Linked DNA regions of Homo sapiens: all the other regions are linked to region 1. Evidence: fine-mapped expression QTL. A gene starts in region 1. Each other region holds a variant in brackets. All regions are shown on one strand. Distances are from middle to middle. Region 1 holds the start of KIAA0753. Region 2 overlaps KIAA0753. Region 3 has its middle 14 kb from the start of PITPNM3.

Evidence for each region. PIP is the estimated chance that this variant, and not a neighbour inherited with it, causes the effect.
Region 2: its variant is the best candidate, but not a certain one, in a credible set for the expression of KIAA0753 in esophagus muscle (GTEx, PIP 0.83).
Region 3: its variant is the best candidate, but not a certain one, in a credible set for the expression of KIAA0753 in atrial appendage (GTEx, PIP 0.57).

The regions. Positions count from the first base shown.
Region 1 is chr17:6,638,420-6,642,626 of GRCh38, reverse strand. It overlaps KIAA0753, which reads left to right and starts at 1,916. Exons shown (of 19, transcript NM_014804.3): 1 at 1,916-1,990. It overlaps TXNDC17 (thioredoxin domain containing 17), which reads right to left and starts at 1,567. Exons shown (of 4, transcript NM_032731.4): 1 at 1,400-1,567; 2 at 793-874; 3 at 303-378. The coding sequence starts at 1,544. LOC122526780 reads left to right here and starts at 2,311. Exons shown (of 1, transcript NM_001396008.1): 1 at 2,311-4,207. The coding sequence starts at 2,311. RefSeq lists enhancers at 848-907, 1,108-1,377, 1,508-2,389, 3,288-3,357.
Region 2 is chr17:6,608,815-6,612,814 of GRCh38, reverse strand. It overlaps KIAA0753, which reads left to right. Exons shown (of 19, transcript NM_014804.3): 8 at 667-896; 9 at 2,655-2,821. Among named protein-coding and RNA genes, the nearest start is that of KIAA0753, 30 kb to the left of the region's middle. The variant T/C (reference allele first, on the strand shown) is at 1,989.
Region 3 is chr17:6,568,199-6,572,405 of GRCh38, reverse strand. No RefSeq gene overlaps it. Among named protein-coding and RNA genes, the nearest start is that of PITPNM3, 14 kb to the right of the region's middle. The variant G/T (reference allele first, on the strand shown) is at 2,373.

The sequences.
Region 1 (4,207 bases):
CTTACTTTTTAACCAGAATTATGAATTAAACAGAAAACAACTGTTGATGCAAATGTTTTAAGGAATTATGAGTCAACCTACTTTCTGGTTTTTTAAGAGTGACTTAACATGAAAAAGACCTAATAGCTAGATATTTACATTATCAGTTTATTGGGATTGGCCATAGGAATGGACTTTCAGCAGCACTCTGAACAACAATGGAATTGAGATGAAATGTCAAGATCTTTTCAAATCTGGATCCACAGCAAGTTAAAAGAGTTCTGACAGTGAATTACAGGCCCAGCATATTTAAAGATACTTACTGTTCCATACTTAAGTAGTGTAGGCACTGCTGTTACTTTCAAGTTTTTTCTGAAGTCATTATTTGGATCTTTCCAACTATTCGAAAAGAAAAAGTGATCATGAAAAAAATTTACTTGGTTTATTACAGTTTGCTTAATATTTGACATAGTCCTACATTTAATTTTTTAGTAATCACTGTTCTTGCAAACACTTAAAAAACCTTGCGGACTATGGCTTAATCTACTAATTACCCTGTGCAAAGTTTCAAAGTGTGACTAAGATATAAAAGTAAAGCCAGCTAAGTTCTGGGCTTACACCAGACCAAATTCGTTGAATTACCCTTACTTAATTCAGGTGGGCATTTTAAATTTGTATTTAATAGCTTCTAATTGTTTAACTTGTCAGACATTACCTTGTAAGACAAACTGGGTAAGTAAGTCCCTGAGGCCCTTCCCGCCTAAGTATGCAATTTGTGCACGTCTGCGAGGTAGATTATACATTGCCACTTACTAAGGCTTTTCTCCTACTTGGCAGTAGATGAACACACATCCTTCACTAATGTGCTTCAGCCCCTCTCGTACGACTGGTTCAGCTTTAAAAAAAGTTGAGATAAAATAATCGCACGTCAACTCTACAATCAGGCACGTATAAACTGTGTTCTTTCCCCCTTCCCCCAGTCTTGGTAAGCACTCAGACTTTAACCTGCAGCTAACTGAAGAGGTCAACACAAGTCAGGTGTTCCCTTCTGGTCTTAGAGCCACGTTAAGGGTAAGGACCAAATCCCAGTCCCGATTTGCCCCTGCACCACCGCGCCCGTAACAATGGAAAGCACATGTATTTGCTGACCAACTCACGTATCCTGTAAGACACTAATGGTACTGGGGGAGTGAGAAGTTTTAAGGAACTAGATTCCAAGATCATCCGGGTAAGGTGGTAAAAGGAAGAGCGCTCTTGGCAGGGCGGGGTAGGATTTAATAGAAGGAGACTTGGGGACAGCTCAGATTGCTCCGCGGATGTCTGGAACCAAGACTCTGCCTCCGCTAAGCCCCCCTTCTGGCCGTAGGCTCGACCTTCCTGCCATTTCCATTGGACAGCAGCCCCCGAATCCCGGCCTCACCCTGCACGCAGTCGGGGCACCAGCTTTTCCCCCCGGCGTCCTTAGAACCCGTAAAGTAGGCGAAAATGGTCTTGCCATTGTGCTGTTCCACGGCCCGGTGGAACTCCTCGAAGCCGGACACGCTCACCTCCTCATAGCGGGCCATTGGCACGACGTGCAGCCGCTACTGGAGGAGTGCACGTCCGGTCGCCGCGGTTGGGTCCCGCGTAGGCGGGGCGAGGCTGTTTCCGGGTGGGCAAGAGAGGGCGGAGCCTGCGGAAGCCAGCGCCGCTAAAGACTACGGGAGCCTCTGACGACCACAATCCATCCGCATGGCTTTTTGCTCTAGTTCCTCAGATCTTTCTGCGCTAGCTGCACTCCCAAGCCCAGGCTTAGATCTACCCTAATCTAGTCCCAGCCCCGACCTCATGGACACTGGCTGCAAAACTTACCGCCTTGCAACACCTGGATCCTTAAATAGTTCAGGGCCTCAAAGGCTCCCAAGCCGCCCTGCGCCTGTTGCTATGGCGACTGGGCAGGCGGCCGGAAGCGCGGCCTTGTTGGGGGCCCCCGTTGCCCGCCTCCCAGTAGCCGCGCCTCACCCTAGGCCAGGTGGGCTCGGGCCGGGGCTGGGGGGGATTCTGGGAAGCCGCATAGAGTCATGGACTTGGGGGAGAGGAGATCTGACTCGGAAAGCCTTTGTTGCTTTGTCCCCCCAGTTACCTTTTCTGCCGTCTAGGCTTTACGGGGGCCTGGGACTGGGGGCGGGTTCCCGAGACTGGGCGGGGGTGGGATGGGTGAGGGGCTCGGAGGGAGAAAGGCTGCAAGGCCGGAGCGGAGTGTGTGAGTGCGTGTGTGGAGCAGCTTAGGGAGCGAGGTGCTAAGACATCCCCCAGGGCCGCGGTAGGGAGGAAGGGAACTGCCCTGGAGCTATGAGCCGGGAGACTCGCCGTGGGGCCTTGCCCAGGCTGCGCCGGGGAGAGCAGGCGGCTAAGATGCCGGGTCGCTGCGTGGGGCCCAGCAGGTCGGGGCGGGGGGTTCGGCGGCCGTGGGGGAAGAGACGGGGCGCAGGGACGTCCCGAGGCCGTGGAGCAAGGCGCCGGGCGAAGCCCTCGGAGTGGGAGACGCGCTGTGTGAGTGCAGAAAGGCCACAGGGCCGTCAGCGGCCATGGGGGACGAGACAAGCGGCGGAGACAGCCGACGCCGCCGGGGCGAATGAGGCTTTGGGAGCTCCTGGGACCCCAGGCTCCATCGAGGCTGCAAGGGACCCTGGGGCTGTGTGGGTGAACGGGGCTGTGGGGGAGCCCGAGGTGGTGGGGCTTGCCGGGGCTGTGTGGGTGACCGGGTCTGGGGAGGAGGAGACCGAAGATAGAAGTCCCCGGGGCTGCGAGAGAAAAGGTCGCCCGGGATCTCTGGGCCATGAGAGCATTCTGCACCTGTGGCTGAAGGTGCAGGCTATGAGGGCCGCCTCGGGATGTGGGGAAGGAAGTAGAGTCGAGCTCCATCCCGTGCCTGCAGGAGAGGGACCTGTCGAAAGGGGTGTTCCTGGCCGAGCTTCCTGGGTAGAGACAAGCCGCGGCGGTCTTACAGGGCCCTGGGTGAAGGAACAGGCAAGGGGGATCCCTCGGGCCCCCTCAGGGCCCACAGCTCTGGGCTTAGGGGCAGCTTACGAGAGAGCCTTAGGCTTCTGTGGACAGGGACAGGCTGGGAGGGTGCCTCCTGCGAGTGTGCCTGGGGCTTTGGCGTCAAGTTCTGAAATGGCCCCGCACCTGTGGAGGGGAGAAGCTGTGGGGGTTCCTGAGACTGGGGAGGAGATAGGCTATGGGTTTGTCTCAGGCCCTTGTGAAAAAGAACAGACTATGGGCGAGCCTGGGACCGTGGGGTGGACTGGGGCTGTGGGAGCGCCCAGAGCCATGGAGGGAGAGCTCGGCTGTGGCGGTGCTGCAGGTCTGTGGGGGAGAGGACAGTCCCCGCAGATTCCTGGGGCTCTGACACATGAAGCAGTCTGTGGGGCCACCCCTGGCGTATGGGGGAGGGGACAGGCTGTGGGGGTGTCCGATGCTGTGGAGGAGGAGCCTACTTCTGTGGGTGCCGCAGGTGTGTGTTACAGGAGACAGGCTGTGGAGGAGACAGACTCTGTGGGTATGCCCGGCCCGTGGGGCACAGGATACTCTGTTGGGGTGCCCTGTGCTGCTGAAGAGGAAACTAGATGTGGAGGTGACCCAGGGTTCAGGGAAAGGGGACAGCCTGTGTGGGTGGAGACAGGCTCTGGGGGTGATCCAGGGTCACGGGGAGCTGCGCAGACTGCAGAGTCATCATGTCCTGGGGAGCAGGCAGCAGGTTCTGGGGGTGCCCCAGGCCTGTGGGGGATACAACAGGCTACAGGGGTACCCAGGGCCTTGGGGAAGGACACGGGCTGTGTGAGTGTCCCAGGGCTGTGGGGAGCGGGACAGATGGTAAGGGTGCCCCAGGCTGTGGTGGTACCTGGAGCCCTGGGAGAAGAGCTGAGCCACAGCGGGGGCCTGGGCCTGTGGGACGGACAGCAAGCTCTTGGGGGGCCCCCAGCCGAGGCAGTGCCTGGGCTTGGAGAGGAGACCTGTAGTGGGAATGTTCTGAGCCCGTGGGAAAGGAGGCAGGCTGTGGGGGAGCCAGAGAGTCTGGGGCCTCCAGCTTTAGGGGTCCCTGGGTCAGTGGATCAGGAGGCTGGCTGTGGAGATGTTGCATGTCAGTGTGGGAGGAGGCAGGCTGTGGGGGTGTCTGAGACGGTGGGCATACCCAGGGCAGCAGATGTGCCCCGGCAGGGGTGTGCCGCAGCAGGGGTCCTCATGG
Region 2 (4,000 bases), 30 kb after region 1:
CTCACTGCAACCTCTGTCTCCTGAGTTCAAACGATTCTCCTGCCTCAGCCTCCTGAGTAGCTGGGATTATAGGTGGCTGCCACCATGTCTGGCTAATTTTTGTAGTTTTAGTAGAGATGGGGTTTCACCATGTTGGCCAGGCTGGCCTCGAACTCCTGACCTCAGGTGATCCACCTGCCTCAGCCTTCCAAAGTGCTGGGATTTCAGGCGTGAGCCACCGCCCCTGGCCAGAAGTGACATTTAAATATTACATTTGAGAAGCACAATTTTGGTAGCCAGAAGACAGTGTGAAGATAAACAGGAGATCAGTTAGGAGACACTGTTATTCCAGTCACAGGATACTGCAAGCCTGACCTTGGGTAATAGCAAAAGGGAAGGAAGGGCAGAGATAAATGTAAGAGCTATTTTAAAATTAGGATCAAAGGGACCAGGTAAATGAGTAAATATGATAGCGAAGATTCAGGGAGTCAACCGTGACACCTAGGTTTCTGCTTATAAACCTGCAGTAATATTCATAGGAGGAGGAACAATGTTGACAACAAAACATCTGCTTCTCAGCAGGGCTAGGATAGGTATTTGGAGCCTATCTGTGTGTAGATAATCATTCTCAGCAATTTGATTTGAATAGCATTTTCCTCAGTTTGTTTTTCAAAAATTTCCATGTAGATAAGTATCAGCCCGATACGGAGCTTCCGGAGACCCAGAGGTTGCAGAGTGAGCTTGATGTATTAGATGCGGATATAGTTCTGGAAGAAGGACCATTTATTCTAGACCAAAGTGCAAGCTTCAAAGACGAGGTGTTAGCCGTGGCAAAAACAAAAGCAGGGAAAAAGAAGCCTGTGACTGAGAATGTGCCGTTTAGGAAGAAAGATACTCTGGCGCCAGCAAGACAGCAAGTATGAAATCATTCCTCTCTTTTGGCCCATTTGTGTTAATCTGACATTGTCAAGGTCACATAAACTGGTATATGGTGGAGCCAGTTCTCAGGCAATTGGATGCTGCAGTCCTTGAGTCTGGCTATTTAAGTTGTTTATATATTTTAACAAAAAAATAACAATTTTTAATATTGTTACTAGAATAGAGAATTCTTTCTATTCCTGGTTTGGTAAGATCCTAACTAATATGATACCAATATCCTAATTGGGCAGGAGATTTTAAAATTCAGTTTTTTTTCTGCTTCTGATTTGGAAGTGTGAGACTTGAGGGGATTAAGATTTGGTTCCTGCCGGGTGTGGTGTCTCAGGCCTATAATCCCAGCAATTTGGGAAGCGAGAGGATTGCTTGAGGCCAGGAGTTTAAGACCAGCCTGGGCAACATAGTGAGACCCCATCTCTACTAAAAACAAAATTAGCCAGATGTGGTAACTCATGCTTGTAGTCCCAGCTATTTGGGAGCCTGAGGCAGGAAGATCACTTGATCCCAGGAGTTTGAAGCTGCAGTGAGCTGTGATCGATCCACTGTACTCCAGCCTGGGCAACAGAGTAAGACCCTGTCTTAAAGAAAAAAAAAAATTAGTTCCTGCTAAAGATAAATATCGATCAATAATAATTACTGCATATTAAAAGGGCATCCTAGGGTGAGTGCTTTCTAATATGGCTTTGGGAGCCAGCAGGGTACAACTTGATTTGAAACTACATTATATTTTAAGCTTCTGTTTAAAACTTACTTATGGCCCTATCAGTGGAAAACTGGCCAAAAGACCACCTCCTGGTCGAATACCCTTATTGTATTAGTGACATTTGGTGGTCTTGCCCAAAGGCTTCTTTAGCAAATCTGTTTATTTTCAGGTGGCCTCCAGAAAAGGAGAGTTAGCAGTTATCCCAAGTTATTGACAGATAATGGATTAGGATCAAGTCTGTTTCTTCCCAAACTTCTATGGCAGGGGGCGACCATGAATCATTGAGATGTCAAGATTGAACCTGTAGGAATTCAGATGGGTGCGCCTCTCCACAGACAGCCCGCATTCTCGATAACATTTTTTAAATCGC[T/C]AGATTCATTCTATTTAGACCTAAGGCCCAGAGAGGTTAAGTATTTTTATGAAAAATGTTTTACTCATTACTTGAGCCCAGGAGTTCAAGACCAGCCTGGACAACACAGTGAGACCCTGGCTCTACAAAAAATAAAAAATTAGCCAGGCATGGTATCTAACACTTGTGATCCCAGCTATTCAGGAGGCTAAGGCAGGAGAATCGCTTGAGCCCAGGAGTTTGAGGCTGCAGTGAGCTATGATCATACCTCTGCACTCCAGCCTAGGCAACAGAGCAAGACCCTGTCTCTTAAAAAAAAAAAAAAAAAAAAGAGAAAGAAAAGAAAAAAGAAAAATAATTTAACAATATGGTATGAAATTTTTTTTGTTTAATTAGGAAACAAATTGTGAATAAATAAAAATATATTTTATATATTGTTTATATGTTTAAAGGTGTCAGGCAGAGCCAGGGATTTAAATTCTACACCCTCCACCCCCCGCCCCTACCATGGTTGTTTCAATGAAATTTACACCCTCCCCCAAATTTCTGCCACAGTGCTTTCTACTCAGGTTTTACCGAATGGATGCATGAATAACATGGAGAACTTGGAGCTTCAGTGAGTCAGAGGTTAAACCATAGTTTCTTTGGTATTTGTGTGGCCTTATAATTCTTACTTATCTCTCACAGGGACTCCGCAAAGCTGAAAGAGGTAGACAAAGCCAACCTCACAGTAAAAGCAGAGTGCAGCAGACAACAGTTTCATCCAGATTAAAAATGAACCGGCAGCCTGTGAAAGACCGCAAGGCACCATGGATACCCCCAAACCCCACATCCCCACCAGCGTCTCCTAAATGGTATGTGAAAACTCAAGGGACCGTTTGTGTATGTGATGCTCTTTTTCCTCCATATATCAAAGGTGACCTGTAGCTTATAAGGAGCAAATTAAGTAGTAGCCTTAATTTTTTCCATTAAGCAGAAATCCTTTTTTGGGTGAGTCATACATGAGAAGTCTTTGTCTGGAAGCTTGTTGGTTCCTTCTTCTGCCTGACTGTGGTTGGAACACCCTTCCATGGGCCACCCCAACACCGGGACATGTGTGATTGAATGGAAGATGGGGGGCTTCCCTTCACTTGTCTCTTCTGCCAATAGATTCTAGTAACTTGAGGCCAGGGACTGTGTCTTTTTTATATTCTTTTTTATATTTGAATGTCCAGTGCTAGTCACATAGTAGGCATTCAGTAAATCTTTGCTGAGTAAATAAATATTTTAAAATAATTCTAACTCTAAGTCAAGATAATTATGAACTATAAAACTATATAGATCTCACCAACACTGTCTTAGCTGCAGGGAGCAATTAGGATAATGTTGATGTTACTGTCTTGTCATCCTCACTCATAGCACATTAGAATGAGAAGCTGCCATTTCACAGGGCTAGAGAGAAGAGGAGCAGGGTCCAGTTAGGTGGAAATAATCTTTAGGGGAATCGGTTGAAGATAAAGGGGAGCTCGTTTGCCGTGAGGCAGTAGTTTTTGAAAACACAATGGAAAGGACCAGGAGGTGGAACAGAAAAAGGAAAGAAGTAAAAAGCAGTCATGTCAGGGGAGAAGGGAGAAGATAGGTGACTACAGGGTTCTGTCTTTGGAGCCATCAGAAGTCAGGGTGAGCAGCTTGGTGGAAGAGAAGCCCCCTAAGATTCCGAATGAGTGTGAAGGAATGGCCGTGCTCATCCATCCACTCTCATTTTCAAGTTAAGGAAACAATGTTTAGAGAATTTAATGTCTTATTCATGTAACAGCCAGACCTAAAATCAGGTCTTCTGACTTCATAATGTGCTTTTTTTGTTTTTATTACTCTATTCTGTTTTCTGTATTTTTGTATACAAGTATTAATATGGAGATTTACATTCAGTTGATAAGCTCAGTGGTTGAAGTTTGTATTACAAACCAAATATACAATGGACTGTCTTTTAGAGTGCATGTGTGGTGGGTAGAGGAGGGTGGGTGAGGCTTCTAGGCTCAACAGTGCTGTTAGGC
Region 3 (4,207 bases), 70 kb after region 1:
CTGGCATGGTGGTGCACGCCTGTAGTCCCAGCTACTCAGGAGACTGAGGCAGGAGAATCACTTGAATCTGGGAGGCGGAGCTTGCAGTGAGTCTAGATCATGCCACTGCACTCCAGCCTGTGTGACAGAGTGAGACTCTGTCTCAAAAAAAAAAAAAAAAAAAAAGAAAAAAGAAAAAGAAAAAAAGAAAAAAGAAACACAAAGAGAGTTTAGACACAGACCTTTTCAAAGCAGAATAAAAACAAAGCAGGAGGAGAGGGAAGCTAGCGTACTGTGGTTGTACATTGCAAGGGGCGATTCACTGTTACTGAGTGAGGGTTGTGGTTTTGATGGTCTTCATGGAGGAGGTGGCTTTGAATTAGGCCTTGAAAGATAGTTGACGCTTTTCCAAAGCGTGAAGTCTTGAAAGTGGGGGACATAGGTGTGAACACAGTGCGATTAGACAGCAAAGGTGCTGGCGGTATTTACCAGAGCCGAGAGGTCCACACTGCCATCTCAGCCCTACGCAGGTGAGCAGGAGAGCACCCTGTACCCCAGGAGGCTGAATGCATTGGAGGCACTGAGGAGTGGCCTCAACAGCTCATTACTCCACCGGGCAAAGAATTTCATCCAGCTTCAAGAAGATGCTGTTGAGTAGGAATAGACAGCTTCCCCCATCCTGTCCTCCCTCCCTCCCTTTGAAAGCAAGACTTACCTCGGATTGCCCTTGCTCACGCTTTCTAATCTTTATTCTGTTTCTAAATGGGGGAGTCTACCGGGACCCCCAGGCCCTTGTCAAGTGCTCCATCTGTATTTAATCAATCCCTCCTCTGAAATCCAATCCGTCATAAATTCCAGCCGCACAATAAATGTGTAGAGAGGTCTGCAGGCATGGGCTTTTATAGTCAAAGAGAAACAGAATTGGTGCCCAAATGATTGAATGGAGAACAATGGGACTCCGAGAGAGGTGCGTGCAGGAGGGGCAAATATCGGAGGGCGAGTGGCTGTGCCTGGAGAGCCTGCTGTTCTTGGCCTGAGTGTGTGCCCTCCCAGCAAGGCGGGCATGTCCTCTGCCGGCCTCCCCGCATTTATTAGCCCTTGGTAATGGATTTTATATCTGCTCAGTGTGATGAAGGAGTCTTGGCAGTCCTCAGAGACCTGCAGAGTCTCCTCCCAGCCCTCCAATGAGAAGCCGGCAGCCTTCGTCACCCTTGTAGGTGGCTCTCTGGCCAACATTTACTTTAATGTCAAAAAGAAATCCCAGGCATGGGATTTGAAACAGACGCGGGGCCAACAGGGTGGCTGGGTCTTTGCGAGGACAATCTGGGCAGGGCCTGGGGGCCTGGGCTCTTTCTCTCCATGTTGATCGTGGTGTAGCCTCTGGAGGGGCACGTAGTGGGCTCCCCATTCCGGGCTGGGGCCTCGGACTGGCATGCATCACTTGTGACCTGCAGCATGTGTGACAGAGGCCGCCTGGGCATGAGGGCGGGGGCTGCTGGCTTGGCCGCCAAAGCTTTTAATTAACTCAGATAATTGTTCACAGCTTTAGGCATGAAAGCCCCAGGCTCCTCACACTGACTTAGGGGGCCTGTTTCCCATCGGAACAAAGGAATTGACTAAAACTGGAGTTCTTGCTATTTTGAAGGGTCAGGACCCCTTTATAAACCTGGACAATGCTGTGGACCCTTTCTTCAATAAAGACACACACATAGGGGCCGGGCGAGGTGGCTCACGCCTGTAATCCCAGCACTTTGGGAGGCCGAGGCGGGTGGATCACGAGGTCAGGAGCTCGAGACCAGCCTGGCCAACATGGTGAAACCCCGTCTCTACTAAAAATACAAAAATTTGCCAGGCATGGTGGCGCGTGCCTGTAGTCCCAGCTACTCGGGAGGCTGAGGCAGGAGAATGACTTGAACCCAGGAGGCGGAGGTTGAAGTGAGCCGAGATCGCGCCACTGTGCTCCAGCCGGGGCGACAGAGCGAGACTCCATCTCAAAAAAAAACAAACAAACAACAACAACAAAAACAAAAACAACTATCTAGAACAGTTCATGTACCTAGCAGTGTCCTTGTCACAATACACTTTCCGATCTCCGAGGCAGGCAGAGGCTTTACTACCCCTTTTTCTGTGAATGAGAGCAAAAACCCAGAGTGGAAACAGGTCTCACAGGAAATCAGAAGCAAAACTGGGACTAGGCCTACGGTCCTCTGATTCCCAGTCTGGTGCTCTCTTTTGATGCATGAAAAAAACCCCAAACAAACCAAAACAGAAAACCTCATCCCCCCACCCCAGGAATGTCCAATAACTCTTCCCCTCTGTGTACGGAGGGGAGCAGAAATCCACTTCCCCAAGTGGAGCCTCACTGCATCTTAGGCTCAGAAGGCTTTTGTTAA[G/T]TATTACTTTCTACAGCTTGAAATAGAATGTCAAGAAATAGAACTCTGAAAATCATGGTTGTTCTTACTTCCCAAGTATGAAATATTGCAATGTCGAAACATTGGAAAGCACACAGCCTGCAGCAGCCCCAACAGGAAAGCACTACGGGAGGACCAGCAGCCTCTTCCTCCCTGGGAGGCGGGGAGGGATCAATCTGGGAGACCCCCCAGCCCCTTCTGTGCAGTTTCCTGCAGAGGATGCTCTCACGTCCTCATGCCGGGAGGAGTGCCCATCACAGGTGGCCGAAAAGTCCCTCGCTCACACACCCCTAAACAAAGGCAGCTGCACCCTTCTGAAGGTTTCTGGAACCCTTAACTTTGGCTGGGGTCTCGGGGTGAGCTCTGGGGGGATTGCTGGGTAGGTGTGATGACACAGCCCCTGCTGTTGAAGTCATTTGGAATTCATGATGCAATCCCTCATGAGAATTGTCCAACCCTCAGAAGTCTATTGCACTCTCTATGCCCTTGGAATATGGTTATGTGGATACAGGGTCCTGCCTCCCAAGATAGGACCCTTCAATCTTTGTCTCCCACACCTGGAAGCTGGGGCATGCATGTCCCAGGCTTGGCTAATCATGCTTGGCTGGAATGAGTGATTCAAAACTGATGTTTCTTTATAACCCACTCATTCAGGGGCTGGTGTGTACAGCGAAGAGAGTGGCCATCAGACTAAAGTCCTTCTGCTAAAAGGTGACTGCTGTGCTTTCTAGAAAGTTCTTGGCCTTCTCCAGCAGCCTCAGTTCCCATCTGCTTTTCTTTTTTTTCGTTTTTGAGACAGAGTCTTGCTCTGTTGTCCAGGCTGGAGTGCAGTGGCGTGATCTCTGCTCACTGCAACCTCTGCCGCCCAGGTTCAAGCGATTGTCTGGCCTCAGTCTCCCGAGTAGCTGGGGCTAAAGGCATGCACCATCACACCCAGCTAATTTTTGTATTTTATTTTATTTTATTTTTTAGTAAAGATGGGGTTTCACCATGTTGGCCAGGCTGGTCTCGAACTCCTGACCTTAAGTGATCTGCTCAGCTCGGGCTCCCAAAGTTCTGGGATTACAGGCATGAGCCACTGTGTCCAGCCCCATCTGCTTTTCAAGCCTATCCCTGCAGGCTCCTCTGATTCTCTGAGATCCCGATAGCCTGCCAATAAACTCCCTTTCTGCTTCAGAGAGACTGAATCTGTGTCTGTTACTTAGAAAGGGAAGCAACCGGTGTTGCATACACATTGCCTGGACCTTCTATGACATCTGCAAGCAACTGCGATCTGTGTACCTGCTACATGCTGCTGCTTCTCTTGACAGCGATGCGTGGAAGGGAATGCTTCTCAGGGCGACACAGAGAGAGAGGAAAGACTTACCGACACAAGCCAGGGACAGCCGCCTACATCTCCATGGGAGAGTGGGAGGAGAGAGCCTTGAGTTAAGAGCCTGGACTGTCTTTCAGTCCCAGTTGTGCCACCAAATGCCCTGTTTTTGACTGCCCCCCACCCCCATTACCCAGTGCTGAGCTTCCCCATCAGTACAGTGAGGTGCCGGGGTTGGATCCCGTGGATTCGGGAGGGCCTTCCTCCGCCGCCAGGTTCCAAGTCCAGGAAGTCCTTCCAGCTATTCTGCTTCCTCATCTGCACAGAGGAAGCCCCCACCAGCTGAGACTCCCTCCCCAGGTGCTCTGAACCTGAAAACAAAGAGCAGTTGTGTGCCCCTCCCTGTCCATCACTTTCCCTACCCGTCACACCTCTCTCCCTCTCTCCCCCTTATAAGCTGCATGACTGAAGGTCAGGGCTTCCCAGGAATACTTACCTTTTTGCC